2 linked regions of the Homo sapiens genome follow. The protein of the gene in region 1 purifies or fractionates together with the protein of each later gene. This does not show direct contact. Each region holds a gene or a part of one and is shown on either strand. Other genes may lie near its edges.

Region 1 (16,621 bases):
TAAGAAAGTGCCAGTCACTCCCCTCCAAGTTGTTTTTTTCTTTTTTTTTTTTTTTTGAGATGGAGTCTCGCTCTGTTGCCCAGGCTATAGTGCAATGGCACGATCTTGGCTCACTGTAAGCTCCGCATTCCGGTTTCAAGTGATTCTCCTGTCTCAGCCTCCCCAGTAGCTGGGATTACAGGAGTGCACCACCACACCCAACTAATTTTTGTATTTTTAATAGAGATGGGGTTTCACTATGTTGGGCAGGCTGGTCTCAAACGCCTGACCTCAGGTGATCCACCCACCTCGGCCTCCCAACATGCTGGGATTACAGGTGTACACCACTGCTCCAGGCCTCCTAAAATTTTTTTAATGAAAAAATTTCTGGCTCCACTACTTTAAGTTCTGTGTACCTGGGTAATAATATTACCTACCTCAAAGGTTGTTTTGAAGATTATATGAGTTAGTATATGTAAAGTGTGAAGTACATCATCTCTGGTAAAAAAAAAAAAAAAAAAAAAAAAAACACTATATAATTTGTGAGTATATATGTAATGTTATTATTTGCTTTTTTTTTTTTTTTAACATTCTCCAGGTCACAATGGAGCTACCCTATCTCTAAACTTCTAATGAATCTACCAATGTAAACATAGATTAGAAGTTAACTGGTAATTGTTTCATGTCTACTGAGATCTCTAACTAGCTTGTAGACAACTATATCCAAAACTTTTTGTTTTTGTTTTTTTGAGATGGAGTCCCACTCTGTCGCCCAGGCTGGATGGAGTGCAGTGGCGCCATCTCGGCTCACTGCAACCTCCGCCTCCAGGGTTCAAGCAATTCTCCTGCCTCAGTCTCCCGAGTAGCTGGGACTACAGGCATGTGCCACTGCACCTGGCTAATTTTAGTATTTTTAGTGGAGACAGGGTTTTGCCATGTTGGCCAGGGGTGGCCTCAAACTCCTGGCCTCAGATGATCCACCTGCCTCAGCCTCCCAAAGTGCTGAAATTACAGGCATGAACCACTGCACCCGGCATCCAAAACTTTTTTAACACACACAGTAGTATCTAACGTAGTACTTAATCTTTTTAGTGCCCAGAAAATATTGATTTATCAACAAAATTAAATGTCTGTTAAATCAACTCTTTACAGTGGTAAGAATGTAAGGCGGTCAACTCTTCTGATAATAACTACAAAATGGCCTCCAAGTTTCTTTGATCTTCTTTCATTGAGAAAATTGAGAAACTGAACTAAAATGGCTTAATTCTAATCCGTGAAAAGACGATTAGTAGAAGCGTTTGAAATAAGCAAAAGGGGCTGGGTGTGGTGGCTCACACCTGTAATCACAGCACTTTGGGAGACTGAGGGAGGCAGATCACTCGAACCCAGGAGTTCAAGACTAGCCTGGGCAACATGACGAAACGTGGTCTCTACAAAAAATACAAAAATTAGGTAGGCATGGTCGCACACATCTGTAGCCCCAGCTACTTGAGAGGCTGAGGTGGGAGGATTGCTTGAACCAAGGAGGGAGAGGTTGCAGAGAGCCTACATCGCACTCCAGCCCAGCGACAGAGTGAGACCCTGTACCAAAAAGAAAAAAAAAGAAAAAAAAAATGCCAAAGCACTTTTTTGAGTTTATAAAGTATATCGTTTTAAACATTCTACTTTGCCTTAAAGAGAGCATGGATTCAAGTCTGTTATAGGTTAATAAAGGTGGAGAAAGATATATATATATATCTTGTACAGCAACAATTTAGGAGATGTAAGCCTCCTTAATTAATGAAGTCAAGTACTGAAAGTTTTATCTTAAACAAACAAACAAACAAACAAAAAAGACAAAGAAGAACTGTGAAGAACAAAAGGAGGGGAGACAACATGCAGCCCAAGTTTTAAACTGATGAGTCAGAGACCAATGATTTCCATCTCAGCTCTGATACCAGGGCTCTGCCCAATCAGGAAAAACCTCGAGATCAGCAGAATTACAAGAACAACAGACCCATCAGACTGAAGTTTCACATTTTGAGGAAACTTTTAGATTGGCAAATTTCTTTAGGTGAATTATAATCAGACTTTCACTTATATAAATTTGTCCTATAAGCATCAACATCATAATAAACACCAGTTCCCCAAGGTGAACTTTACTTTTTAGTAAATATTACTACACTTTAAAAGTAACAACTCTAAAATATCAAAGACTTAATGAAAAACATGAACTCTTGGATTGGCTCTTGCAATCAAATGGGCTCTACACGTTTCTACTTTTTGAAAAAGTTAGAAAGCTAAAAGACTCCCTTGAAGGCAAGGTATTGGACATAATTAGGATCTGCCAATTATCTGCACATGGAAAGCACAAGTGGGACAGAGGCCACATTCCTACAGAAAGGGCAACTAACAAAAAACGTCTACAGACACTAAGTGGTTGCAGCTCCATAGGCCTTATGCCCCCATCAGCATACCAGTCTCCTGGGTGAGAAGCAGTTATGACAGTGGGGCAGCGGTAGCAGTGGTGGTATGTGTGGCCTTGAAAGCAGTTCAGCAGTGGCTCCCTGACTTTCCCTCCTCCAGCCCTTCCAATGACTTGGTAAGTACCTGATTCCTGAAAATAGCTACAGTGGATCTCTTTCCTGCTCTATACCCTGACTTATATATTGACATTGTGTGAATTTAGGTCCTCTTGCCCTCTTCTTGGACCACTGTTCAACATCTCCTAACTCAGGATTTGCCTGCAATCCTCACTATCCCAGTTCTTCCTCTGACCTGAGACTACCAAAACTGATCATGCTTAAAGAAAGCTTATCTAGTAAGGGCCGTATGGAAACTTCTTCTGTTCTTTCATACTGGTACATGTGTGTGTGCAGCTGTGTCCTTTAATTCCTTCTCTATCTGATGAAATCCCACTCCACCTTCAGAACCTAGCTCAAATGAAGACTCCTTCTGTGACTGGTCCCAACAGGGTCACTCCACATGCCACTCCCTTTCACAGGTGCACTCCCTTTCACACACCCTGCTGCCTGCCAGGGGCTCTGTGCTCATTCATTCACACATTCATTCATTCAAAAAATATTTGCTAAGTTACATTTGCCTACCACATGTCCTGAAAACTGGGGATACTACCCTAACCAAGATAAACAAGGTCTCCTCTCTTACAGCTATAATCCAGCAGGGATACAGTGTACCCCATAATTACCTAAATAATGTTTAATTACAATTGTGATAAGTGCAATAAAAGATTCAGGGTGTTGTCTTTTATGTATAAACGGAAGCCTAACCTAATCTCAGAGGATCAAGGAGAATTATTTCCCTTGAAAAGACATTTAAGCAGGAATTGAAAGATGAGCAAAAGCTGAGCAGGCAAAAACTTGTTAGAAAGCTTCCCAGGCAGAAGAACAGCACGTGCAAAGGTCTTGAAACAGCATTCTAGGAACTGTAAAGACCACCAATGGGCAAAAGTCAAGGTGCAAGGGGAACAACAGCCCAAAATAAGTATAGAGGTAGTTATTTCTTAAAACCATTATTACAAGCACTTAGCACATCGTTTTAGAATCATTTATTTGCAAAAACACAACCCACACTAAACAAACTCCTTTAGGTCTTACAAATTTTTTTAGCTCTCTTACCTAATACAATATCTAACAGTGTGTCTTCAAGTCAAGATCTGCGGAACAAAGAAACGAGTGTTTGATCTCAGCAATGAGCTTACCCTCTCAATATCAGACAGGCTAAACAAAACAATCTCTAGAGTTAAAAAACCTTATGTTTCTGACTACCCAAAATTGAATGGGCAAGAGACTCACTTTCATACCAATTTAAACATGCTCAAAATCAAACCTAGCAAAAGATGGAAACAGACCAAATGTTCATCAATAGACGGATAAATTGTGGTCTATCCATACAATGGAATATTATTCAGCCATAAAAGGAGTGAGGTACCGACACATGCTACAAAATGAATGAACTTTGAAAACATATGAAGTCAAAGTCAGAAACAAAAGTTCATATGTTGTATTATATTAAATATCCAGAACAGCCAAACCTACAGAGATAGAACATGCAATAGTGTCTGCCAAGGGCTGGGGAGAGGGGATAGTGGGAAGAAACCGCTCAATGTGAATTTTATCTATATGTTTTGTTTTTGTTTTTGTTTTTCCCTGAGACGGAGTCTTGTTCTGTCACCCAGGCTGGAGTACAGTGGCGCGATCTCGGCTCACTGCAACCTCCGCCTCTCCGCCTCCCAGGTTCAAGCAATTCTCTTGCCTCCGCCTCCCACGTAGGGATTACAGGTGCCTGCCACCATGCCTGGCTAATGGTTTTTGTATTTTTAGTGGAGACGGGGTTTCACTATGTTGGCCAGGCTGGTCTTGAATGCACTTTTAAAATCTCAGAAATATACATTAACAAGCATGGGACATGTCAATGTGGTACCTGCCAAGCCCAGCGATGTTTTCTAGGAGCCCTACTCAGCCAAGTTCAGGCTACTCCTGATGTCCAACACAAGATGCCCTATTCAGAGCATGTGAAAGAATAGAGAAGTGAAAAAAAAAAACAAAAATCAAAGCTAGAATTACCTGTAGATAACACTTTAAATACTGAAAACTAAACTTGAAGCTGGCAAGGCATTCCCAGTCCTCACTGCTCCCTAAAGTGCCACCAACTAATAACCAACAAGAGCTGCTTTAAACTCCCACTGAGTCATGAATGCAGCTAGGAGAGAGGAGGAGTAGTTCCATCTGCCTGTTCTTAAATTCTCCAGTTGTTCAACAGATTTGGTAAGAGCAGGATCAAGAGCAGGAAACTGGCGCCTATGCCATCCTTTTCTCCTTCGTTGCTTCCTAAATACTGTCAATCCAGGAAACACAGCTGGTGATTCAGTAAGAAAATGTCAAAACCCAATTGACATACCTCTACCAACTATGATAAGGCAAGATAATACAGGCACCTCAAATCCTAAGCTTTAGTTTTGGTACATATTCTCAAAGATCAGTGGAAGAAGCTTCTTTGAAAGAAAGAAAATTGAGTTAACTAGGAAATAACTTTGAAATACAGTACATGAAAAGTTTGATGCAATTTACTAGACAGTGAAGAAAACATCAATACATACACAGAATGAAACTTCTTAGTAACTGAGCTGTAGAGTAAGACCTTTAACATATCTTTTAAAAGTACTATATTTATTATGTCATCCTAGCATATAGATCCAAAATCATGTAACAAGCCAAGAATTCTACTAAAAAAGCCTCCATAATGTACTTCAACCTTACCAAATACTCAAAAACTGTGAAAATATATTTACATCAATTGCTCTATCATGTCGAATTTTTCAATTATTACAACCATGAAATCAAGTCTAATTAAATCAATAAGTGGCCTTACCTGTGATTTTTTGCCTGAAAGATCAAGATAAAACAATGAAATTATTTACAAGATCATTTTAATATTCTTCTAGATTTAGTAGCAACAAGAAAAAAATAATCCTTGTAAATTATACTGTGGAGTTCATGCCCTTCAAGCTGCACCCTTGTACTCTTGATACCATTCTCTTCTCTCCCACTTCCTTCACTTCTCAAAACAAGTAAACCAACAAAAGGCCAGACAAAACCAAAATACAAAAGACATTCATTCAATATATATCTACTGATTTCCGTGGCAATACAAACACTGAGCAAAACGAATACTTCCTATTCTTCAGGTCCAAAGAAGTAAAACTTTTGATCCTAATTTAAGAAGTACATGATTCTCTTCTCCCCACCTCAAAAGAGTAAATAAAAAAAAAAAAAGTTAACATGGTTAATAATGGCTTTTAAAAATCTGTATTATTTTAGAAAGCATTAGTGAAAATCTGATTTTATAAAGTACTTTTTTGGAGACAGAAATTTGAACAAAAATTAAATTATTTTTAATAAAGTCTGTAGATGAAGGAAGGTTAATTCTGAAACTGTTACTATTCGACTTTTAATGAACAGATTTAATATTTACCAGCATCTCTACTTAACCATGTTATTACTCAAAATGACAAAATGTGTACTATTTAGCTTCAGCTTCTTTCTTCTTCTTGGCCTTTTAAAGGACCATTTTTCAGTGTTTTGCTAGTGCAGTCAATGAGCAAGCAACTGAGCCTAAACACAGTGCAGAACTCCCAAATAACCACACACAATCAAGTTACTAGGAAAACAAGTATTACAAGAACCAGGCACGGACTTTGTAAAAACTCATCACCTGAAAAGGTTACATAGGATAAATATAATCTTGACTCAATCAAGTTACTATATTGAAAAGTGCTTCATAAAAATAATCTAGTTACAGTATTCCCGCATGATTCTTCTAGTAATTCAGTACCTGTTACGACAGTGAAGTAACCTGCTGATGCTGTGTGGCTCAGTCTAGTCAAATATTATCAGCCTACTGAAATGTGACTCATTTATATAGTATTGAGATAGAACAGTAAAGCTTCAGGAAAAGTCTAAGTCAAATAACACAGAAATCTTAAAGGACATTCCCCAAAGAGACTGTCTCCTGCTTTAGAGAACTACCCTATTTCTCACCCAATAACGAAATAAACCAATTAAAAATATACACGATCTTTTCTTAACTACACAAGACATTTCTTTAAAAAAAAAAGAAATATTTCCCTTGAGATTACTTACAAGACATTAAACATAAATCAGATCTCCAAACACAAAACATAGCAGCTAAAAATAGTATATCTGTTTCAAAGGCTGAGGCAGAAGCCCTCCAACCGAAAAAACTAAAATTAGGTTTTTTCCATCTCTAGATCTTTAAAATGAACCTTCAGCATTTATGAGGTACACAAATCAGTGTCCACATATTCTCCCAAACTAGCTGGTCAGAGAAAACCTAATTACTAAAATCTTCAGAAATACAAACCCACCGTCCTCCAAGAGACTCATGTAATGAAATTCCTCTTCATTCTGGCTAATAACCAGACTAAAAAACAATACTACTACTAATAAAGACCTTTCTCCAATTAATTTATTCCGTAAAACTCAAACCCACCGAAAAAGACCACCATACTCTTTTTCAGGAAGCAGAGATAAAAGCCTTGTACAAAAGCTGTCAGGTGGGCAGGCAGGTAGGGCTCCATCTAGGAGACCAAGAATCCGAGCCCGGAGTGGGAGGACGTGGTCACACCGGAGGGTAGAGGAGGGGATCCAGACCTAAGCGCGGCCCCACCCACAGAGATAGCTATGAGCAGAGCTAGGAGGGCAACTCTCTAACCCTAAGCTCTGCCCAGACCCGTGCCCGGTTCCGCGCTCCCAGCCTCGCTCCTACCCCCAGCCCTGTGGAGGGTCCGAGCATCGCTACCCTGGCACCTGCTCAAACCCGTGTCTGGGAGGAGGGGAGGCTGGGGCCACTGACAGGGCCTGCGGGCCTGACCTCGCCGCCGCCTCTGGCGGACTTGAGGGTCGACAGGAGCCCCGCGCCCGCCCGCTCAGCCACCCGCCCTCCAGTCAGGGCAGGAGCCGGCCAGCGAAGCCGAGGCGTCCGCTCGGGCCCCGAGCGCCGCAGCGGCGGGAAGGTCACCGGTCGCAAGAGGCCCCGACCGTGGGCAGCGACGACGTCCAAGCTACCTTTGGCCTCGCAGTCGGCGCAGTACTTGTTGTCCTCCTCCCTCAGAAGCTTGGATAGGATGAGCTGGTGCTGCTCGTTCAGCTTCTGAGCCTTCTCCCGACAGGAGCGCGTCGCCATCTCGGCAGCGGGGCGGGGAGCCTGGGGCAGCTACGGCGGCGGCGGACGCTGGCTGGAGCCGGGCAGAGTGAACGCACCTGGCGCCGCCGGGACCGCGGGCGGACTCAGCCCAGGAAGCGGCAGCGGCAGCTGGAACGGGAGGAGGGGCGGCGGCGGCGGTGGCGGTGGTAGCGCCGACGTGTCCCGCCTCCTTGACCGGCCTGCCGGCACGCACCACCCTAGCCGGCGAGGGGAGGGGGAGGGGGACTGGGTCGCGCCGAGGCTTCCGGGTGGCGCGGAGGAAGGAACCCGGGCGCCGAGCGCGCTGCGCATGCGCCGAACCTACGGGGCCCGGGCTGCCGAGTCTTTTTGCAAAAAGGCCTTCTGCCCAAGGTGATTCCCGAAAGGTAGCTGGCACTGCCTCATACGAGCTTTCCCCCCTTTTGAGATGTGATGGTCCGCAAGGGCCTCTAGTAAAACCCAGTAATGGAAGACCTTTTACAAGAAGCCTACTTTGACTTGCCCATTTGCCTTTGCTCTTGCTGGCACAACATTGGAAATGCAGAAATAACTAGCGACTGGGTGGGTTCATTTACTCATTCGAGGTTTATTCGCCTGCAGTTTAGAAGCTGGAGACACGGATGGAAGAAAAGAGGAAAAACGGTCTCTTACATTTTAAGGGCGAGAAATAATCTAGTAGTGACATGTATTAGGGGATAACATTTCATTGAGTGATTACTCTGTTAAACGAACTGTTAGCTCATTTAACCCTTTCCCCAACCTTATGATATTGTTATCCTCATTACACAGGGGAGGAAAGTGAGGCATAGAGGAGTTAAGTAACCTGACCAGATTACAGAACTACTAGTGGAGGAGTTGAGATTTAAATCCAAAGCAGTCTGGCTCCAGAGTCTGAAAGACCTGGCAGTAAGCCCTTCCATAAGGGGGAAAGTGTGACCAGGAACCCAAGTACTAGGCGGTGATACTTTAACAAGAAGCTGTGTAAATAGTGATCCTTAATGCAAGAGAAAGAGAACTAAAGAAAACACTTTTCATTGGAACCCAGACCCTAATCCAGGCTCATGAAGTTTGAACTCCGGGTGACGCAGTTTCGATGATTTGGCATGTTGTATATTATGAGGAAGTTCTAATATGGGGCTTATGCAAGCCAAATAAACACAGTCCTTGCCTGCGATGAAGCAGATGCTAAGAAAGGCAATGAGCAAGAGTCGGTCTTACACTTCTTAGTAAGGCCAATTTCTAGCCCCTGTCCCTGCATAAAAGTGACCCTCATTGCTACCTAGCCCTGTTCTTGGCACAGGGGCTCAAAAATGTTTCTGGAATTAAATTGAATGGATATGGCAATGAAGATGCTCAGTAATTAAACAAATTAGAGCTTATACTACATAGCTCTGACAAATAACTACTAGGGAGATATTGGTGAGTTCCAATGAACAGAAAAAAACATTATGTGGGAGGTAGAACTTACGAGCCTTGTCCTGAAGATACGCTGGATTTAGATGGGGACTGGGGAGGGAGATATTAAGAAAGAGCAGCTTGCACAAAAGCATGAAGACCTGAAGTACCTTGGAAAACAGACTGGAACAAAAGGTACTACTTTTGAGATAAGGCTGCATAAGTAAACTATGATAGGGTTATGGAAGACTTGGGAAGCCAGACAAAGTAGTCTGGCCTTGATGCAAATTGACAGTAGAAAACCTGTAGATTTTTGCCAGGCACAGTGGCTCACGCCTGTAATCCCAGCACTTTGGGAGGCCGAGGCAGGCGGATCACCTGAGGTGGGGAGTTCGAGACCATCCTGACCAACATGGAGAAACCCTGTCTCTACTGATAATACAAAATTAGCCGGGTGTAGTGGCGCATGCCTGTTTAATCCCAGCTACTCAGGAGACTGAGGCAGGAGAATCGCTTGAACCCGGGAGGCAGAGGTTGCAGTGAGCGGAGATCAGGCCATTGCACTCCAGCCTGGGCAACAAGAGCAAAACTCCTTCCCCACCCACCCCCCCCCCAAAAAAAGAAAAAGAAAACCTGTAGATTCTTCAAGTAGGATAATAGCATAATAAAAAGGATCTTTTGGGAAAGTTAGTCCTGCAGTAACCAGTAAACAAACACCATTTTTTGAGTACCTCTCCTCCCTACAAAAATTCTGTTCAGCACTGTGAGGACTCAGAAAAACAGAATACAGGTTTACCACCAAAAAACAACCTTCAGGATGGATTGAAGGGTCACAGCAATGTCCAGTACAAATACTTGCGTGCCACACGTATAACTTTAAATAATGCAGTAGCCACATTTAAAAACAGAAAAAGAAACATAAAATACATTTTACTAATACATTTGATTTAACTCAATGTATCCAAAATATTTTTGAGATGTAATATAAAACATGGCATATTTTCTTTCCATTCTTGTTTTCATATTCTCTTCAAAATGCTGTATAACACAGCTCATTTCATTTTGGAGTGGCTGAATTTATTTTTTAATAAAGAAATTATCAAAAAATTGAGCCTAGGAGTTCGAGACCCTGCTGGTCCATGGGGTCTCACTATGTGGGCCAGCATGGTCTTGAACTCCTAGCCTCAAGCTATCCTCCCACCTTGGCCTCCCAAAGTGCTGGGATTACAGGTGTGAGGCACTGCGCCCAGCCTGGAGTAGATGAATTTCAAATGTTCAGCAGCCACATGTGACTAGTGGATACATTATTGAATAGTGTGGTTCTAGATGGTCAGCTTAGAGGCTATTAAAATATAAATTTGAGTTGATTGTATTTTAAGACTATAGTAGGAAGAAAGAGACTGGTCCCCAAAACATCCTGGGAAGAAAACAACATTGCATTTATTCACCAGTATTTATCAAACAACTTCTATCTAGTACACTAATAATCAGAAGCTTACAGTCTACTATGAGCTACAAATATGTAAATAGAAAAGGACTACACTGTAAAGTTTATAGCAATTATAAAGTGTTCTCGGAGCAAAAGGAACAGAACATCCAGTAGCCTGGGAAAATCTGGGAAAGTTTCACGGAGGAGGTGATGCTTAAACTTGGCTTTTAACAGATGGGGGAATTTTTCAAGTGAATGGGGGTGGAGCGGAGAGAAAGGAATTGCTTTAAAAAACACGTATGGACTTCTGAAAGTTCAGGGTTATATGCTAGACATAGTGAGGATATGAGGCCCAAGAAACCTAGAATGTGTTTGGAGAACATGAAGGTAGGAAAGGAAACAAGATGGAGAGGTAGATTGCCACCAGAGGGTTAAGAGCTTTGTAGCCAAGCAACAGAGTTTGAACCTCATGGGTTTATAGAACCAATAGAAGCTTTTACACGGAAAAATGGCTTGATAAGCTTTCTTCTCAGTAACTCTCCATACAGTGGCAGTATGGAGAACATGGTGGGGAAAAACTTATCAAGGGAACAGATTACAGGCCTGTCTCAATAATAGTCCAAAGAAGATATGATGAAGGCCTATTTTAAGCAAGTAGCGTAGGGTTTGGGAGAGACAGAATCAAATGATGGTTTAAAATTAGAAGCAGCAAGATTTGGCAGCTGACTGTATGTGGAGGGCAAGAGAAAGAAGGTGAGAATAACATCAAGCTTTCTAAGTTGGGAGAAAGGTAAATGGTAATGCCGTTAACCCAGATCAAGAATAGAAGAGGTAGGCCTCTAGGTCCAGCAGTCACAGGGCTGAGCCAGCAGCACTAATCCTCCCAGTTCTCCATGTGCTCAGCTTCCTGCTCTGCAACCATGACACAACAGGCGATCTCCTTTGCCAAGGACCATCTGGCTGGTGGCATTGCTGCTGCTGTCGCCAAGATAGTTGTGGCCCTGATTGAGCAGGTGAAGCTGCTGTAGCAGATGCAAGGCGCTAGGAAGCAGGTGACAGCTGACAGCAGTGCACAGGAATTGTGGACTACTTTCTTAAGCAAGCCCTCAACATCACATTCAAGGATAAGCAGACACAGCTATTCCTGGGAGTATGGATGAACACACACAGTTCTAGAGCTGTTTTGCCCACAATCTGGCCTCCAACAAGGCGGCCAGAGCCACCTGTCTCTGTTTTGTGTACTTGCTGGGTTTTGCCAGAACCCATCTGGTGGTCAATGTTGGGAAATCGTACACAGAGCTGGGATTCAGGTTCAAAGACCTAGGAGACTGTCTGGTGAAGATAAGTAAGTCTGATGGGATCTGGGGCCTGTACCAGGGCTTCAGCATCTCTGTGCAGGGCATCATCCTTTTCTGGGCAGCCTGAAGGCCTAAGGCATGCTCCCTGACTCCAAGACCACCACATCATGGTGAGCCAGATGATTGCCCAGACTGTGGTGGTGCGGCCAACATGACCTTCTACCCATTGGGCCCTGTGCAGACCCAAAGGAGCCAACATACTGCACATGGGAACCCTCAATTGCTGGAGGAAGATTTTTAAGGAGGAAAAGGGAAAGCCTTCTTCAAGAGTGCATGGTCTAATGTTCTCAGAGATATGGGAGGAGCTTTTAGGCCTGTCCTGTATGTGGAATTGAAGAAGAGTAAGTGTGTTTCCTCACTAGAAATGAAAACCAAGAGAATCATGTAGCATACTTAACTGTTATGGACCACTGACCTTTGAGAAATTTCATTTTCTTGGTCCTGGCCATAGTACCTCTGTAGAGGACTAGAGAAGGCTTTAGAAAAGGGGTTCACCATGATCATATTCAACCATTGGCACCCTGAATCCACGCATTGATTACTGGCGATAATTATGACATCACCATGGGTCAACAAACAAGGCAGCTCCTTCAAACAGACCTGTAGTCCAGGCACTTGTAGAACCCAAGTTGTGTTTAAATATTTATTTATTTATTTTGTATTTATTTATTTTAGTTTTTATTTTTTTGAGATGGAGTTTCACTCTTGTTGCCCAGGCTGGAGTGCAACGGCACAATCTTGGTTTACTGCAACCTCTGCCTCCCAGGTTCGAGCGATTCTCCTGCTTCAGCCTCCCTAGTAGCTGGGATTACAGGCACCTGCCTCCATACCCAGCTAATTTTTTGTATTTTTAGTAGAGATGGGGTTTCACTATGTCGGCCAGGTTGGTCTCGAACTCCTGACCTCAGGTGATCCACCCGCCTCAGCTTCCCAAAGTGCTGGGATTACAGATGTGAGCCACCATGCCTGGCAAATATTTATTTTTTAAAAAGTCATGTCTCCCATTTGTATTTGAGCACTATCTCCTCTTTTGCATAGCCAAATATTTGCAATCATGTTGTATGTTGGGCATTCTTCTGCAAAACAGTAAAAAGAGGACACTGAAAAAACAAGAAAGAACAAAAGAGATAGTCCAGATTTGGGGTCGGGGAGAAGCAGCATTTGCTTGGGGACATGTTAAGTTTAAGATGTGCCTAGGACATCCAGCTTCATGTGTCTAATGAGATATTGTATATTGACTTCTAGAACTCTGGAGAGGAGTTACTGCTGGTAAAAGTCATTTGGGAATTATTTGCATTTAAAGGGTCATAGAAGCTGTAAAGATGGATGACATTCCCCCGGAGAAAGCACATAGACAAAGGAGAGGAGAGACCTAAAGACAAAATTCTGGGGATTGCCTACTAAATGAAGAGTGGACAGAGAAAGGTGAACCATTGAAAACAGTGGAGAACCAGAAGCCAGGGAAGGAACAGTTTTGAAGAAGAAAGGGTGAACACCAACCAATGCCAACTATTCCAGAAAAGTCAATTATTTCCATTTTAGACAGTACATACAGCATGTGGTCATGGGTCTGCACAGTTCATTGTTTTCTTTCATAGCTCAAGAACAAGAGAAGATAAATCATCTGATGAGACTTCCAAAGCCTGTGATTGTCTGGAGGGTTCCATGAAATATTGAGGGAGGGATGGGGACGGTTAGAAGGGAAAAAAGAAAAAAGGTACAAGGATAGGAAGCAGTGCTAGAGTTAACTATTGAGTGTAAAGTAAGGAAAGTGTCCAAAGTGTGTGTGAGAAGTGAAGTAGGAGCAAGCAATGATTATAGGTTTCTTTGAGGCCAGAGGTGATGTGGTATGGTTAGGAAAAGGATGCGGACAGCTAAATGAAGAGAAGTGCCTAGTGACACCTCTCAGAGGGGTGTAGTAACTTGTCCTGATGAACTCCTGGAAGTCAAGGTGTCTATGGATGCTTGCTGGATGGGGAGTGAAGTTGAAGGGTCTGTTTTTGCAGATTCTTAGAGAGATGAGGTCACTTTTGACTCTAATTTTTTGTTTCTGGTCAGACGAAAAAGATGAGAAACAGGTTTAGGGAGTTTGACTACAATGGAACCAGGATTCAACAGAGGATATAAGTAAAGAGGGAAAGTGATGGAGTAGGAAAATGAAGGAAAAAATTTAGGTCAAGTGAAATGGACAAGAATGAGCCAAATATGCGGGTGTAGGTGGAACAACTGGTAAGAGCAGTAGGTATAGACAACTGGGAGGATGAGCATAATAGTAATAAGAACCAGTGTTTTTTAATCTCCCACTGTGGAATAATGTAATCAATCTTATTATACTATTTTTCACATCAGGAAACATCAGCCAGGATGAGGTATTTCATGTTGAGATAACAAATAACTTCAAAATCGTAATGGCTTCAGACAATAGAATTTTCTTCTTGGTCATGCTACATGAGCATTGGGCTCATAGGGATTCTACCCTATGTTGTCGTCACTCTGGTACCAGGCTGATAAAGTCTCTATCACTTTTCAGGGAAAAGGCAGGAAGATGACTTTTAAAGGTCTCTCCCCAGGAATAATACATATCCACTTCCACTTTTAAGCCATTGGCCAAAGCAAATGCATGAACCCTCCTAATGTCAAGGGAACCAGAAGTGCAATCCTACCATTTACCTAGAAGGAGAAACCGAAATATCACTGAACAGCACAGAAACTGTGGCCCAGAGATGTTAAGTACTTGGTTGAAAGTTATCGATATCTTGGTTATCAATCAAGTATCTTGGTTGAAAGCCTAGATATTAAGTAGCAAAACTGGCTTTCGAGGTTATGTCTTGTTGGCACTGAGGCCCTGGTTTTTTATAAGCTATGCTGTCCCTTGAGATGGAAAACAGAGTAGAACAATTTAGACCCATCAATAACAAGAGTTAAAGAGAGATCAAGTGTATTGAGTCAAGAGGAACACATATGTATTGAGGAAAGAGGAACATTTATTATGGAGATAGGTAAACAAACATCATATACACACCCACAAAAAGAGGAAACCCAGGAAAGACCCTAGATTTTTTGTTTGTTTTGCCTTTAAAAGTTACATCAGGGGGCCGGGCGCAGTGACTCACACCTGTAATCCCAGCACTTTGGGAGGCCGAGGTGGGTGGATTATGAGGTCAAGAGATTGAGACAATCCTGGCCAACATGGTGAAACCCCGTCTCGACTAAAAATACAGAAATTAGCCAGGCATGGTGGTGCATACCTGTAGTCTCAGCTACTCAGGAGGCTGAGGGAGGAGAATGGCGTGAACCCGGGAGGTGGAGATTGCAGTGAGCCGAGATCACACCACTGCACTTCAGCCTGGCAACAGAGTGAGACTCCGTCTCAAAAAAAAAAAAAAAAAAAAGTTAACATCAGGGAACCTTAGTGTGTTTGTGATTCCTAAAAACTTAGCCCAACTGGTGTACTCTTTTAATTTATGCTCAGATACCAAGGAACTCTCCTCAGTGTGGGGAGAGGGAGGTCTCTGTTGAAAATTTGCTACTTCCACACAATTCTTCCCCACCTTCCTTTGGAATTATTTCCAAATGTAATTTTTTTTATTTTATTATTATTATACTTTAAGTTTTAGGGTACATGTGCACAATGTGCAGGTTACTTACATATGTATACATGTGCCATGCTGGTGTGTTGCACCCATTAACTCGCCATTTCCAAATGTAATTACACACAACCTCCCACTGCCAGGAAAATATAATTTCCAAAATCCCAATTTCTCAGCTTTTTACCCTCCAGTACAGAGACACTGAAATTTTTTGAGTGCTCATATGGGCAACTAGTATCCCCAGTCGCAAAAAAAAAGCTTGATACAAGGAGTCAGAAGAACATATTCAACCCCTGCAGTCCTGCGAGGGAGAGAGGAAAACCAACTTACACATATATTTGAAGGCAGATGCCTGATGGAACCATTAGAGGGGTATCTAGGCCTCAAGTTTGGCTATGGGAACTCTAACCATTCTTTGAAGCATTTTGTTGAAGCAGAATTAAACAACTCAGAAAATTTTCCTGAACTGCCCTTCTTATTATCCTCCACAGTCCTGACCCCACCAGCCTTTTTTTTTTTTTTTTTTTTTGAGACAGGGTTTCACTCTTGTCGCCCAGGATGGAGTGCAATGACATGATCTCAGCTCACTGCAATCTCTGCCTCCTGGGTTCAACCAATTGTCCTGCCTCAGCCTTTGAGTAGCTGGGATTACAGGTGCGCACCACCATGCCTGCATAATTTCTATATTTTTTAGTAGAGACGGGGTTTCACCAAGTTGGCCATTCTGGTCTCAAACTCCTGACCTCAGGTGATCCACCCACCTTGGCCTCCCAAAGTGCTGGGAATATAGGCGTGAGCCATCACACATGGCCCCCCACCAGTCTTTTGACAGGAAAATTGACGGCTCTCCCTGTTCATCTAGTCATCCATTCAACAATATATTTTTGGCCGGGTGTGGTGGTTCACACCTGTAATCCCAGCACTTTGGGAGGCCAAGGCAGGTGGATCACAAGGTCAGGAGGTTGAGACCATCCTGGCTAACACGGTGAAACCCCGTCTCTACTAAAAAAATGTTTAAAAAATTAGCCAGGCATGGTGGCGGCCGCCTATAGTCCCAGCTACTCAGGAGGCTGAGGCAGGAGAATGGTGTGAACCCAGGAGGCGGAGCTTGCAGTAAGGCGAGATCGCACCACTGCACTCCAGCCTGGGCGACAGAGTGAGACTCT
Region 2 (15,960 bases), on another chromosome or scaffold:
TCAAGGACAGTGAATGCCACAGTCCTCTGCTCAGAGCTGGGCTAGGCCCCAAGGCCCACTGAGTACAATGTCTACCCTATCTCCTTGTTACATCCTTTTTACAATATCCTTGGGTGATGCTTCTTTTCATGGGGCTATTGGAAAGGCTCCAACACCAAAGAGCCAGACCAGCCATTTACGAATAGCCATTCACCATCGGACTGAGGAACCTACTGGGAGAGTGTGAATATGTTGGTGTTTCCTGACTTGTGCTCAGAGCCCAGATCAAAACACTGGCTTGATCTTACTTTGAAACATCGACCTCAGGTGCAGCAGTGTAAATTCTACACCAGGAGGTGGGATTGGACTCAGGAAGTCCACTACAAGAGCAGCAGGCCATGGTAGAAAATGATCTGCCATACCCAGTGGCAAAATCTGGGCCAGTATCCTAAGGACCCACTCAGTAGCCCACAGACCGATTCTTAATACCTTCACAATCCAGGCTTGTTGGTGCTACTTCAAATTCACAAAAGAAAGGGGCTTATAATAAGACAAGCACTGATACACTCCTAACAGGAAATGCACACCCCACCCACCTTCCGAGTCTACCCCTACAGGCAAACCAGGAAGGAGGGAGAAATGCTGGAGCCCTACCACGAGCCCAGGTTAAACGACATCCGATATCAGATTGTTGAGACGTTAAAAATAAAAATATCATTTTCAAGTGCTTGTAGCAGAGGCCTAGCTCCTAAGTTGTAGGTAACAAAGGTACTTCCCTCTGAATACATGGCGATTGCACACACTGGTAAACCTGACGGTCCTGGGGTGGGGGAGACACCCCAGGCTCCACATTGTGCCTTTCTGAACAGGCTTCCAGGCCACCCCAGGCAGGCAGCAAAGGATAGGAAACCAAGCAGGTGGAGACTGGAGCCCTAAGACTCAGTCTTGGGTTACAGGAATTGAATCTTCTTTTAGTCTCTACTGGAAGAATTTTAGAAAACCAATTTTGGCAGCAGCAGTTGAAGGACAGCCCCACTGCCCAGTGCACTGGCAAGAGAAAATGTCCTCCTCTTTGAGTCCCGCTGTGCTACATTAGGTCCTATCCAGGGAGGAGGAAGCAATATGAAATCTTTCCAAAAGGTAAAGGTCATTTGCCAAGATTAGAGGAAGAAATATAAAATCTGTTCTTTGCAGCAGCAAGAGATTCTTTCGGCCTTTAGTTCTTTATGTCATAAAAGCCAGCTGTGCTTGAATGTAAAGGTCCACCTTGCTGGTCAGTCTGCCCAGGGCTGGAGGGAGGCCAGACTCTTGGGATTGGCGAGTGGATGGAGGAGCAGTGGAATGGCAGAGCAGACAAGGTTACCAGACCAAGCCCGCCCACAGCTGGTAGAAGGAAGCCCTGGTTAGGTTCTAGAGGTGCATATGGTCAACGTGCCCCAGAAGCATCACAATGAGGGAAATCATCCAAGAACGAGATTGATGGGCAAGTGAGAATCTGGCCAGACCTGCTGTTTCCTGCTGGTCAAAAAAGGAAGCAATGTTAGTGAGAGTGGGGAATCTGAATGAGCGCCATGGTGGCAGTAGGAGGTAATCACAGGGGCGCCTGGAGCCCCCAGCCACAGCTAGGAGCCCCCACCAAGAAGAGTGGCAGTAATTCAGCAGATAGCCTAACTCTCTACGCCTATGATTTTAAAAGTCCTCTGATGGTGGGTGAGAAGACAAACCCCATGAGCACCTTACTACAGGCCCAGTCAAGAGTGCACTGATTCCACACACACTGGGGCTCAGAGGGAACCCCCAGCTCAATGCGAGGCCTCAGGACCCTGGGATCCGAATGTGGGGTGGATACCGCCCTTCTCCAGTTAGACGATTTTCCATTTAAACATAGATTTGCCGTTAGTGTCTTTTATGCTTTTTTCTTCTTGCAAAATTTGTTCACATAAAAAAATTATTTTTCTTTCCAGTTTCTTTCAAGTGTTTCTTTGTTTAAATTTCCTTCAGTTTCTTTCAAGTATCTTTTTTTCCCTTCTGTTCTCCTGGACAGATCAAAAGGCCTCACTGAAATCCCAAAATTAGACATGGGGAAAACTTCTCTTCTCCCTGCTTACCCAGCAATGAGGACAGAATCCTTGGTGCCCCACTGTGGAAGAAGGAATGTGCCTGTGTGCAGCCTTCCACTGCTGTGGCCACACCATCTCAGGCAGGGAGAACGCTTGGGTCTGTCCTTTCGTCCCCAGCTACATCCCAGTTTCCAGCAGGCTTGGACACTGCAGCCTCCCCATGGCAAATTGGCCAGACTCGGCTGGAGAGCAAGCAGGCGATGGGGAGCATCAGATGGAAGGCCTTCTGTGAACAGCTGGCCCACAGAGAGGCGGTGGGTAGGAGCTGGGCCTGGATGGAGCCTGTGTTCATGTGGACCAGAAAACAGTTCCATGTCACCAGCTGCAGGATCCAGAGGAGCTTGTGTTCCATGCTGTGCATCTTGATGACCCAAGCCTGAAGGTCACAAGGGTGGCACAGTGGGGGAGGGCTTAAGCACCTGGAAAAACTGTACCTCCGGCGAGCTCACGTTTCGCCATCTCTTCTGGTCCACTGCCTCTCCTGAGGGACTGTTCCTGGAAGGAAGCGCCTATGTCTGTACCAGATCCCTGCCCCACCACATCCCATCCTCTGCCTTAGATGGTGAGGAGAGGGATGCAGCCCACACCGACCCCTCCCTCATGGCACGCCATGGGGGCCATGAATGTCCAGCAGTCTGTCTCTGGGTCATACATCTCCACTGAGCTTAGGTTTGACTGTCCGTCGTAGCCCCCAACAGCGTAGAGGCGCCCACAGCTGGCCACCAGGGAGACCCGGCTCCTGCGCGTGTGCATGGGGACAATCAGGCACCACTGGTCTGCCACAGAGCTGTACATCTCGGCAATGCTGAGGAAGCCAGAGCCATCGTAGCCCCCGCAGACAAACATCTTGCTCCCCAGGGAGGCGGCTCCGTGCCGGCAGCGCTTGTTGAGCATGCCAGCTGCAGGGTGCCAGGTGGCTGTGTGGTGGTTGTAGTGTTCCACCTGCAGTGGGGAGAGAGGCACAGGTACAGGACAGTCAGAGGCAAAGCTCAGTCCATGGAGTGACCGTGCAGGGCACAGCAGCCCCCCATGATGTCAAACTCCTGTGGGAGGTATGGGGACAAGGAGCTCTCCCAGTATTCCCTCTGCTGCAGGCCTGCTCTTTGGTGTATGGGGACAGGGAGAGGTCACCTCACCTAACCCTTTCTGTTTGCATCTAAGGAAACAAAAAGGATGTGCCCAAGGATGCAATGCTAGGTAGTGACAGAACCTGTATGAGAGCTGGGTCTCCTGTAATCTCCAGGGCTCTCCACTGCAGCACTGACTGACTATGGAATGACTAGTAAATGGCTGTTGAGCCTTTTTTACAGAATAAATACAATTTCAAACAAATTATCCAAAAGAATACAACTGTTTGCAAATTTACACTTGGTCTATAACTGAACTTACTTTGGGCAGGAATCTCACAAGTTCTATGTAGTGTTCAACAGACAGTAGAACAGGGTGGTGGCTGCAGATGTGACTACCCTTTGCCCTTCTTTTGTGTACACTGGCTCATTCTCTGGAAGTTCAGAATTTCAGAAGGTGCAGTGGATAGCCTGAAACCTCACTAGATGATACTTTATTCAGCTGTGGCAAGGCTGAAGTTTTTTCAAATAATGATCTTCTAAAATAAATCTCAAAGACAGAAGTAGGTACCCTTATCCCAGGGGGAGCCCAGACTCACACTGCTGAAGATCTGCAAACCATCATGGCCGCCTGACACATATATCCTGCCCTCAAAGACTGTAACCCCAGCAGCACTGCGATTCGAGCTCATCGAGGTCACCACTGTCCATCTTCAGGAAAGAGTCAAAATAGGAGGGGAAGCATGAGATTCAGGGTTCTTGTTCCCTCAAGACAGCCTAGCAGGGTTTAGGTGAACTGTGCTGGCCATCTCTCCATCTCTTATCACCTCTCCCACCACCTCTCTGACAGTTCTCCCTGGCTGCCGCCTCTCACCCAAGCTGCAAACCCACAGCCCATCTTCTCTGCTCATCTCCATGGCTGCTCAAAATCATTGTCTCATACAAGACCTCTTTCTCCTACAGTTCTGCTCCTCCCTGCACTCCCTGCCTTGTTAAGCAGACCACCAGCCCTCTAGCTGCTGTACTTATAAAGCTCAGTGCTATTCTGGCTGCTTCTCCCTCACCATCAACATTCCTGTGGTCCCCCAAGTCCTGGCTGGTTTGCTTCCTAGTCAGTGCTTGCTCCCATCCCCACTACCAGTGCCCTACCCCTGACCTCTCATCTGGACCACTGCAACAGCCTCTTTACAGGCAGCCTGGCTTTCCTACCAGTCCCATCCGACCCCACCCAGCCAGAGGGATTGCTCCTCCTGTACCTGCACCATGTCCGTCCAGTGGCTCCTCACTGTCTCCTCTAAGAGAATCCAGGTTCCTTCATGTGGTTTTTAATTTTTTTTTATTTTTGAGACAGGGTCTCACTCTGTCACCCAGGCTGGAATGCAGTGGTGCTATCATAGCTCAATGCAGTTCTGACCTCCCAGAATCAAGCAATCTTCCTGCCTCAGCCTTCTCAGTAGCTGGGACTAGAGGCTTATGCCACCATGCCTGGCTAATGTTTTTTTCTCTCTCTCCTTTTTTTTTTTTTTTTTTTTTAAAAGAGACAGGGTCTCTCTTATGTTGCCTAGGCTGGTCTCAAACTCCTAGGCTCAAGTTACCTTCCTGCCTTGGCCTCCCAAAGTGTTAGGATTACAGGCGTGAGCCACTGTGCCCAGCCCTTCATGTGGTTCTTCACCTCTTGGTCCTCAACCACCCTTCAGCTTCACCCCACACCACATGCCACCCACCCTGCTCCGTCTCCCATCCACACGCTGTGCTCTAGCCCATGAGAGGATCATTGCTGTTCTCGATTACAGTGAACACTTTCTTATTGCAGCCTCACTCCTTGTTGTCTCCCTATGATGAGCAAACACCTCCCATTGGCTATCCATGACAGGTCTCACCTTGGAAGACATCCCTGCTACCCTGTCCCTTCCTGCAACCCTGGGGAAGATGAAGGTTCTCTCTGCTCTGTGCCCAAGAGCTTCTGACACAGGCCTCCAGGGTAGGATGATCATGATGCAACCCATGGCCCAACCACATTGGATGCTTTAAAGGATCTCAGACACCCAGCTTGCTGTCTGATCCACAGTAGATTGGTCAAGTGAACAGAATACTGGCTTAAAGGCATCCTAATAAGTCCATTCAACTAATTTGTTTATATTTTATTATATAAGATGAGAGGATTCAAATACTGAAATGAAAAACTCGGGCTAACCTTGTCAATGTTTTTCAAAGAGTGTTCCACAAATGAGTCCCACAAGATGGTGACTGTTGTGTATATAAAACCCGAGGTTAAACAGAGTTATTTACTGCAGGGTTTCTTAGAGTCTTTAAAATGTTAATATATCTTATGGAAAGACAAGGACTCTGGCAGTTCAGACATCAACATTTCCCAAGCCTATCTGACCACAGAACTTAAAAACATTTTTTTTTTTCCAAATCATATCCTACCCACTTTGGAACATGCTGTTCATCTACTTCTTATTCCCTCTTGCCTGTATTTCCATTAAAATGGGCTGATTTAGCTAAGAGGTACAGACCATTAAATAAGTATTTCCAAGCAACTATGTAGACTATTTGTTTTAAAATTTTATTTACTCATTCTTTCACTTAACCAAGGGTTATTAAATATCTAGTATATACAAAGTACTATACGGGCAAAAAGGTAAGACATTCTCTACCCTTGAGAAGCTTAAATTAAAAAAACTACAGTTCTGATTTTTATACTCTCTGTTTATAAGCTCCAGTTGCCCCAAGGGAGCTGGAGTCCTTACTTGTCCGTCTCAGGTGAGTAGGTCTCCACGGAGCTGAGGGAAGAGTTGCCATCGTAGCCCCCACAGACGTAGATCTGCCCATCCAGCACGACTGTCCCCATGGCACTGAAACAGACAGAGCTGTCATCCCAGATGAGCCGCAGCCTTCCTGGAGCAGCCTCTCTTGCCCACTGAGAAACAAACCTATCAATTGCCTCTTTCTGCAACGTAAATCTAAGGTATGTGACTAAGTAAAGGCATAAAACTGAGGTGACAGAAGCTGCCCCATCATTCCTCTTGTGCCCCACCCTTCTACCGCAGGCTGCCTCCCCTCCCTGCTCTTCTCTGTCCTTAATCTTTCTAAAATGCTTACCTTCCACCTCACCATGTGAAGGTCGAATTTACCTTGAAGGCCCAACTCAACTTCCACTCTCCTCTTCCTCCCCTTTGTAAGAATTACTCTTTCCCACCCCCACGCTCCCTGAGTGGCTTATTAATCAGCAGTTGTTACAATCATTCATTCATCCATCAGATCTGTAACAGCTGGGGTTTAGAGTGGTAAGCAAGCCAAAGTTCCAGCCCACAAAGCACTTATGTTCTGACATTATAGGCTACCAGGAATCTATCTGCCACTTCTGTGTGTAATTTTTAATCAGAGCCTTGCTCTGTCACTCAGGCTAGAGTGCAGTGGTACCATCATAGCTCACTGTGCCTTGAACTCCTGTGCTCAATTGATCTTCCTGCACTTCAGCCTCCCAAGTAGCTGGGATTACAGGTGTGCACCACCACACCCAGCTAATTTTTTTTTTTTTGAGACAGGGTCTTGCTATGTTGCCCAGGCTGGTCTCAAACTTCTGTCCTCTTGTCTCAGCCTCCCAAAGTGCTGGGATTGTTAAGAGTGAGCCACCACACCCAGCCAATCTATCTGCCACCTCTTAATAAGTGAGGAGCTCCTGGAAGACAGGAAAGGGCCTTCACCTGTGTGACCCTCACAGTGATAAGTATGATGTCCTGTATGTAACAGGCACTGAATGTATGTTTGTTGTGTTACCTCTGCTTTTTCCCACTCAATTCACAGATGTTGTTTTCATCATGTGCATGGCCTCTAATTTATCATAGTGGCTGATGCCACAGCTCCTGTTTGCTGTGCATTTACTACATGTGTTAGGTACTCTACATTTGTTATTTTCTTTTTTTTTTTTTTTTTGAGATGAGGTCTTGCTCTATCATCAGGCTGGAGTGCAGTAGCACAATGATGGTTCACAGCAGTCTTGACCTCCTGGGTTCAAGGGATTCTCCCACCTCAGACTCCCCAGTAGCTGGGACTACAGGCACATGGCACTATGCCTGGCTAATTTTTTTTTTGTATAGACGGGGGTCTCACTATGTTGCCCAGGCTGGTCTTAAACTCCTGGGCTCCAGCAATCCTCCCGCCTTAGCCTCCCAAAGTGCTGGCATTACAGGTGTGAGCCACTGTGCATGGCCCACTTGCTATTTTCAGCCCTTAGCACACCCTGCAAGGAAGGAAAGAGCACCATAATCACTGTACAGACAGGCAGCCATAGCTTGGGGAGGCTGAGGTCTCTCCTCAAGACTGCCCAGAGAGAGGCCTGCCTCAGATTTAAATGAGACAAGCCCAACTCCCCAACTCCTTACATGCCAAGCTCTCCTAATATCAAAGACCCAGGGGTCTGGTGGTGTAATCATGTAATCTTCCCTCCTACACAACGCCTTATAAGGAATTCAGCACAAATGCCAAGCTGCCCAATTCACTATTTTCAAATGTGATGCTGGTGAAGATTAAAAATGAATCTAGGTTTCTAACAAACAGGAAAATAAAACATACCAGGCTTAATGCTACCTTTTCTTTTTTTTGAGACGGAGTCTCACTCTGTCAACCAGGCTGGAATGCAGTGGCACGATCTTAGCTCATTGCAACCCCCGCCTCCCCGGTTTAAGCAATTCTCCCTGCCTTAGCCTCCCAAGTAGCTGGGATAACAGGCGCCCGCCACCATGCCTGGCTAATTTTTGTATTTTTAGTAAAGACAGGGTTTCACCATGTTGGCCAGGCTGGTCTCAAACTCGTGACCTTAGGTGATCCGCCCTCCTTGGCCTCGCAAAGTGCTGGGATTATAGGCGTGAGCCACCATACCTGGCTTGCTGCTACCTTTTAAATGTACATAGTAATCAAACTGATCCACAGAATGTCCCTTTCAGGGACATGATAACTGACCCCCTGAACCAGCCAGAAAGAGGAGAGGGACTTGCCTTAGGCAAGTATTGTGGGAAGATCACAAATTTACTAGACATGATCACTATCCTTCTGGATACGGACACAAAACAAACATAAAAATTACATAACAAAACAGGTGTTGAACAATATGAAAATGAATTAAGAGGTGCCCCAAAACTGCATGAGATTAACTATCAACTAGGTGGTAAAGGCGAGTGTGAAGAGAAGGAGAAAATGCTGATCAGCATGGACTGGAATAGTCCAGTGTAAGAAAGGTCTATGGGATGGCGTAGAACACTGGGGGAGATAGGAAGGAAAGATGGCAGGATGTCACTAACTGGCAGAACAGACAGCTGTGTGGGATGTCAGAAGAGAAGTGACTAGGAACGTTTTAAGGTAGCCTGTAATTTAAAAGGGATGTAATGGAACCGGGCCCACACTAATAACAGGATATTAACCACAGTGAAGGAAAGGAATACCCAGAGAACTTTCCTCCAAGACAGCCCTCTAAACCCAGTAACATCAAAGCAAGGAAGTGGTCCAGAGCAGACACACAAGGAAGGACAGCTGACTGCAGTCAAAGCAAAAAAGCTACTCATGGTTGGGGACACGGAGCAATGAGTCACTCAAACATAGGAAGCTGCAAAGTATCCAAGGAGCAAAAGTGGGGATGGTGGGAGGAAAGGACTCTCAATGCGTTCTTGGGAGGGGCAGATCTTACGTATTTTTTTCTTCCCAAAGGAACCTACTCCGATGCTTTGTGAACTGGTCTCACCAGTACAAAGGCAGATCCCTCCCAGCTCACATCCACATGCAAACGCTGCTGGATGTGGAACAACATTAGGCATATATCAAGGAAGCTCAATGTGTAAAAGCAATCAGTGCAGAGCTGTCCTGGGTAACGGCCAGGGGGCTCTGGGCAGCTTTCCTCTCCCCTCCTTGGGCTGCGCCAGCTTTTCAGCTGCCCACACATGTGATGACTCCATCACGTGTCTGACATAATGAAACATGCCACCTGTCACCTCAGCAGTAAGAAGGGCTAAACAAAGGCACTGGGATGTCTTCTAATCCCACTTCTTATTCAGACAATATAAGCAGAGAAGTGGAGAGAGCAGGTAGCTAGAATGTACTGAGTGACATATCAACTTGGCCCACCTTGCAAATACCTATGTGCTCCTGTCTGGGAGAATGTGTGTGACCTAAATAAAAGAACATTGCTTTGGTTCGTATTCTCCCCAGGTAGTGGAAGTGCATGTGTGAGGGGAGTCCTGGGGAAGGAAGGTACACAGAAAAACACCTTGGATTTCCTTTTATCACTAATAAAGGTAAATCCTCCTTATTCTTCAAGTTTCAACTTTAATCCCACCTCTTCCCTGAAATCTTCCAGAAGTTCCAGTCCAGTTTCTCTCCCTCTTCGAATCTTCCATAATACACATTTCCAGTCCTTATCTGGCACTTAAAATAACAACACAACTTCCACATGTCCATGCCTGGTCTCCCCAAGTTCCCCAAAGGACAAGGTGGATATTTTACTTTTAAGCAGATGGGGGCTCGCTCCCAGGAGGTACTGGCAGTGGCTGGCCTGGCTGCAGGAAACTCCCAGGCCAAAGCTTGTATTTTACTCTACTGTGTGCCCCTGCTCGTCTAGCATGGCGCTCCCCAGGTGCTCAGTGTGTATGTTCGGGCTGCACGTGGCTTCCAGAATACCTTCTCTTGCTATTCATGCTCCCCACTCTGGTCCATGTGTCTGTCTCCGGGTTGTAGGCCTCCACAGTGCTCAGCCGTAGCTGGCCGTCATATCCTCCGATGGCATAGAGAAGCCCGTTCACCACAGCCACGCCAACGCGGCTGCGGGCTGTTGTCATGGGACGGCATCTCTCCCAGCAATTGGCAATGGGGTCGAACACTTCCACCACATTCAGGGAATCACCTGCATAAAAATTTGCTACTCAAATTAAAACAAATGAGACCACTTGTTTAGAGCACAGCTATTGGGCATTGATTATATGGAACATTCGACTCAATTCTATTAGCTCTTCCCACAGAATTACTCAAGGCACAAGGGCCCACTAAGAAATTTCAGCCATGATCACCTCAAACCTAATTCTTTAAGGAAAATCAGAATCAGACAGGAGGTATTTATTTTTTAGAGAGGGTAGTTTTCAGTTACAATCAGGTACTCCACCTGCTTAAAGCCAAAGGTATAGGTGAATCGATACAATATTTCCTCCAGGCAGGAGGCATGCCAGAGGGACGGGCATGCGCTCCAGTGCTTTCATTTGCTAGGGGGTGACCCAAGGCAAGGGGCTTTGTGTCCCCACCCTCTGCTTCACATGTGAAATGGAGATAATCTTTATGGATTAAATGATATAACAGGTAAAGCACCTAGCATGGTTCTAGAATAAACTTTGCGCTCAATAAATAGTCATAGTAGCAAGGAATGATCATTCCAGCCCTACCTTTTTCATCAGGTTTTTGTGATGATCAAACAAAATAACCCCCTCTTCCTGTGGTATGCTGCTATGGGGCACTTAGCATTTCATTTGCACGCCGCTCCAGCGTGCACTGAGTTGAGGATTTACCTGTTCCAGGCCCTCTGATTAACAAGCAGCAGCTAGTACCCAACTCTCATTAACCTTCAATTAAAAACAAAACTGGGCCAGGTGCGGTGGCTCACACCTGTAATCCCAGCACTTTGGGAGGCCAAGGTGGGCAGATCACTTGAGGTCAGGAACTCAAAACCAGCCTGGCCAACATGGTGAAACCCCATCTCTACTAAAAATAGAAAAATTAGCTGGGCGTGGTAGCATGAGCTTGTAGTCTCAGCTACTCAGGAGGCTAAGGCGGGAGAATTGCTTGAACCCGGGAGGCAGAGGTTGCAGTGAGCTGAGATTGCGCCACTGCACTCCAGCCTGAGTGACAAGAGTGACACTCCATCTCAAAAAAATTAAAAACAATAAAAAATAAAAACAAAACTGCCTGGGAGTGCCCACCAACTGCCCCCAAGTTGGGAGGCCATGCAGCTTTCTGAAAACCTTACTCTTAGATTCAAAAACTGCCAATAACCCACGGACTGTAAAGCATGTGTGTGTTTCACAGGGGGTGGGGCTGAAGAGTAAAAAGTATTATTGACAGTGGTAGACCCTGTGTATTTGGATAATCTTTCTCTTGGGGACTTTCTCAGTCTAACCCCAGAGATCCATATGACAAAATGTGAATAGCCTGGTATGGAACTGGGTCTCTGACTGTATCCTATCCGGGGCTGAAGGATGCTATACCATAGCCAATGTGATATTAGGGCAAAAGTGCTGGCTCAGGAATCAGAACACCCAAGTTCTAGTCCTTGCTCTGCCAAAAACAATTGTATGAACATAGTGAAAGTTCTGTGGGGCTCAATTTCCTCACTTGTCAGGTAAGAAGGCTAGGCCTCAAAGATTTCTAGAAGGTCTCTTTAGCACTGATATTCTGATTCAATGGCATGAATATGTGACATGCTCTAACTGTAGAGCAATTGTATAAAATCAAGAGGGGCAAGGGTGGTGACAGTACAAAACAGAGAAACCAGAAGGGCCAGGCTAATTTGTCTGGTGCTTCCTCATCCATGGAGTCCAAGAGGAGGGTCTATAAAGGGGAGCCGCAAGGTACCTGCTGAGTTGAGGCCCCCTACAGCGTAGATAAGTCCAGCGATGGATGTGCAGCAGCGTGGCCGGGTTCTGAAAGCTGGCAGGTGGGGCCGGCGCTCTGGCATGAGGTGGTAGTCCTTTGCTTCGTCTACCAGGTCCCTAGAATAAGGTGGAAGATGCTAGAACAGGAGGTATCCCCCTGACTTAGTCCTCGTTTGCATCTCTGAGCCTGGCTCTCCACTGCCAACTGCAGGGGAAACCTGGGAGGAGAAGCCTTCTGGAAGGTCTGGTCTCAAAGAAACCAGGTGAGTTCTGGGAAAATCATACATGGCTACTGAGATATACTCAAAATTAAAGGGGCAAGACAAGCAAAGACCACCTCAGCTAGTGTAGATTAGGCATGAGAAAAACAAGGTAGTGGCCAAAATGGCTGGACCTGGGAGTTTCGACAAGCAGCATGCACCCTGTTGCCACTCAGACCTAGCCCTTCCTTTCCATCCCTACGACTGCACCGTGGCTTGCAACCTGCAATTAATCACCACTCATCTCCACGGTGGCAGCTCCTGACACATTTCCCTGCCTCAGGCCTGCCCCTCCATTCCACTTCCACACTAGAGTTCAAGCTAAGAACCTTCAATAGCCACCCACTGCCGACAGAATAAAGTCCAAACTCCTCAACAGCACCCTTGAGACCGCTGGTCACTGGGCCCTAGCTACCTCCAGACACTACTCCACCCCATCCTGACACACACCTTCACACCATCTGCCATGGACAGGCACTTACTTCCTCCTGAACCAGCTGATCCCAACCAGGAGTTGGAAAATGAAAGAAAGCTGAATGTGTGTAAAGTTTTTATCAGCAAAGGAGAAAAAAATATTTCAGGGTTGTGAATTTGATAAGCAATCTGGAGGAGAATGAACATTTTTCTCTGCTGTTCTACTTTTACAGCAATCATCCTATAGGGCTGCCATCTTCTGAACTGTTTGGGTAACTCTGCTGTACCATGTTGTCATTGATTTGCTCTGGGTAAAAGTTTCATGTGTTGGTAAACATGTCTGCCCCTTGCCCATCATCGTAGATGTAAAGCCTACACCTGGCAGAGGCCCTCCATGCCCACAGCACTGACTAATATTTACTGAAGAGGGCAATGAGCCCCAGGAAGTCCCATTTGCGCCACTGAGTGAGCTGCTGGTGTGGACAGGGTCAGAGCAGGCAGTAAAGATGGTTGCACATTCATAAATAGCTCAGTGGGGAAAGATGCTGGAAAATCCTCAGATAACTCAGCAGGGGAAAGCCCTTTCTGCTTTGATGCTCCCACATGGCACATCTCTCTGCCCAAGGCATAAGATTCGGGCTCTTCACACTTCCTGTTCCAGCTTCTAGACAGAGGGCAGACCAATCTGTGTGCCATGAATTAGACTGATCACTCTAAATGCTTTCTTTCCAGAACTGGAACAGGTGGCCAACTCCTCTTCCCTGCTTAGACCTTTGGCAGTGTCCTGTGCAGGTCCACCCTCACTCACCTGCATTTGTGGCAGCAACGCACCAGGTCATCCTGCTGTACTCTGTCTGAAAGGAACTGGGGCCGACAGAGGGGCAGGCGGATATTGGACAGCAGCTCAGGCAGGTAGGGACCCCTCTGCTCCCGGTCGTATCTGACCCAGGCCAATGCAGCTTCAAAGACCTGTCATGAGAGTGGATGTTCTGGCAGCAAATCCTCCCACCCAGAGGCCACACCCCAGGCCTCCAATCTCAATGCCTCCACTTCCTATACTGAAGCAGTCCCTTGGGCCCATCAATCTTTTCTCCTACTTGTCTCTGAAATCCCTGATTTCTCTCTACTTCCTAGGCTACTAGAACAGCTTCCTGAATTTCATTATGATTATGATTTCCTAGTGAAAAATCATCAATGGCATCTTATTACTTTCTGTGAAAACAAAATGCCTGTTTCCCTTCCCGCTGCTCCTGTACCCCTGCTCCCTCTAAACTCCCTCCATCACCCTCTCTGTACTCCGGCAAGGCTGGGCTGGTTCTCCTGTTTACACTGTCCCCCCTCATCTAAAATGCCCTCATCTCCTCCTCTTCATCTAAACCCACTCCCCTATTTTTAAGGCCTGGCTCTAGATCCATGTTCTCCAAGGAGCCTTTCTTAATGGCTCCAACCACAAGGACCTCTCCCTCTAAAGCCCTACAGCCCTTATGAAATGTATCACTCAAAGAAATGTGAGCTGCCCCCCCGCCCCCCGTCATATTAATTAGTTTAAGAGCTAGGGACAGGACACCTAGTTTTTGGAATGAGGCTTTTTCCTCGAAACCACAGTGTCTATGCTGCCAAGCCCAGGATCCACTTTTCTCCCAGGCTCCTATCAAGCCCGCTTCACCTCTCTAGCATCCCCCTTTTCTAGAGGAAAGAGGAAAATAAATCATACCTTTTAATCCCTCCTCAAATTTCTTTTTTCTTTTCTTTCTTTCTTTCTTTTTTTTTGGAGATAGGGTCTTGCCCCATCGCCCAGGCTGGAGTGCAGTGGCGCAATCTCAGCTCACCTCAACCTCTGCCTCCCAGCTCAAGCAATCCTCCCACCTCAGCCCAAGTAGCTGGGATTACAGGCCAGGAGTTTAAGCTGGACCAGGCCTGGCTAACTTCTGTGCTTTTAGTAGAGATGGGGTTTTGCCATGTTGCCCAGGCTGGTCTCAAACTCCTGAGCTCAACAAATCTGCCCACCTTGGCCTCCCAAAGTGCTGGGATTACAGGCGTGAGCCACTGCTCCCGGCCTTCCTTAAGTTTCTAACCTTCGTCCCTCATCCTCACTCTCAGGTGAGAAAATAGAAAATCAGAAGAGAATTTCAGTAAGAATCTACCTGTCCCCCGTCCCTGGGCGTGTGCCCCAGCTCTCCCTCCTGCTACTGTGGATATGGATGGCTTGTGCTCCTATCAAAGATGCACACCCTTATGCCCTAGACTGTCCTCACTTATTCCAGAACATCATTCCAACAACTGCTCTCCCATTTCTCCAATATTATCAATTCTTCCCTCTCTTCTGGAAAACTCCCAACAGCAGTCAAATATGCTGTAATTTCTCTCACTTTAAAAAAAAAAAAAAAAGGTCGGGCCTGGCGCAGTGGCTCACGCCTGTAATCCCAGCACTTTGGGAGGCCGAGGTGGGCAGATCATCTGAGGTCAGGAGTTCGAGAACAGCCTGGCCAACATAGTGAAACCCCGTCTCTACTAAAAATACAAAAGTTAGCCAGGCATGATGGCGCACACCTGTAATCCCAGCTACTTGGGAAGCTGAGGCAGGAGAAATGCTTGAACCTGGGAGGCTGAGGCTGCAGTGAGCTGAGATTGTGCCATCGCACTCCAGCCTGGGTGACAGAGTGAGACTCTGTCTCACAAAAAAAAAAAAAAAAAAAAAAAGGCCTGGCATGATGGCTCATGCTTATAATCCCAGCACTTTGGGAGGCCAAGGTGAGAGGATCATGTGAGGCCAGAGTTCAAGACCAGCCTGGCCAACGTGGTGAAACCCCATCTCTACTAAAAATATAAAAATTAGCCAGGCATGGTAGCGGGCACCTGTAATCCCAGCTACTTGGGAGGCTGAAGCAGGAGAATTGCTTGAACCCGGGAGGCAGAGGTGCAGTGAGCTGAGATTGTTGCCACTGCACTCCAGCCTGCCTGGGCGTTGGAGCAAGATTCTTTCTCAAAAACAAACAAACAACAACCCCTCTTGATTTCACAGACCCCTCCCACAGCTGCCCCAATGTTCTGTTCTTCCTTAGAACAAGATTCTTTCAAAAAGTTATCTATACTAGGCCGGGCACAGTGGCTCACGCCTGTAAACCCAGCACTTTGGGAGGCCAAGATGGGCGGGTCACTTGAGGTCAGGAATTCGAGACCAGCCTCGCCAACATGGTGAAACCCCGTCTCTACTGAAAGTATAAAAATTAGCCTGGCATGGTGGTGCATGCCTGTAATCCCAGCTACTCAAGGAGGTTGATGCGGGAGAATTGCTTGAACCTGGGAGATGGAGGTTGCAGTGAGCCAAGATCGCACCACTGCACTCCAGCTTGGGTGACAGAATGAGACTCTGACTCAAAAAAACAACAAAAAAATTATCTATGCTTGCTGTTTCTGGTTCACAGGAGGATTATTTCTAATAGTAAATATTGGAAATAACCCAAACATGCAAGAATAAGGTGAGTAGGTT

The links.
Region 2: the proteins of SMAP1 (region 1) and KLHL18 purify together in Homo sapiens (affinity purification with mass spectrometry; 2 studies listed by BioGRID and IntAct, with this or other methods). This does not show direct contact.

The regions. Positions count from the first base shown.
Region 1 is NC_000006.12:70,659,086-70,675,706, reverse strand, and holds the start of SMAP1 (stromal membrane-associated protein 1), read right to left. Parts: upstream 7,825-16,621; 5' UTR 7,684-7,824; coding exon 7,566-7,683; intron 7,178-7,565; exon of another isoform or gene 7,079-7,177; coding exon of another isoform or gene 6,991-7,078; intron 1-6,990. UniProt on the Homo sapiens protein: GTPase activating protein that acts on ARF6. Plays a role in clathrin-dependent endocytosis. May play a role in erythropoiesis.
Region 2 is NC_000003.12:47,330,636-47,346,595, reverse strand, and holds part of KLHL18 (kelch-like protein 18), read right to left. Parts: intron 13,440-15,960; coding exon 13,279-13,439; intron 11,914-13,278; coding exon 11,777-11,913; intron 10,077-11,776; coding exon of another isoform or gene 10,062-10,076; coding exon 9,839-10,061; intron 6,040-9,838; coding exon of another isoform or gene 6,025-6,039; coding exon 5,920-6,024; intron 3,878-5,919; coding exon 3,766-3,877; intron 3,042-3,765; coding exon 2,655-3,041; 3' UTR 1-2,654. UniProt on the Homo sapiens protein: Substrate-specific adapter of a BCR (BTB-CUL3-RBX1) E3 ubiquitin-protein ligase complex required for mitotic progression and cytokinesis.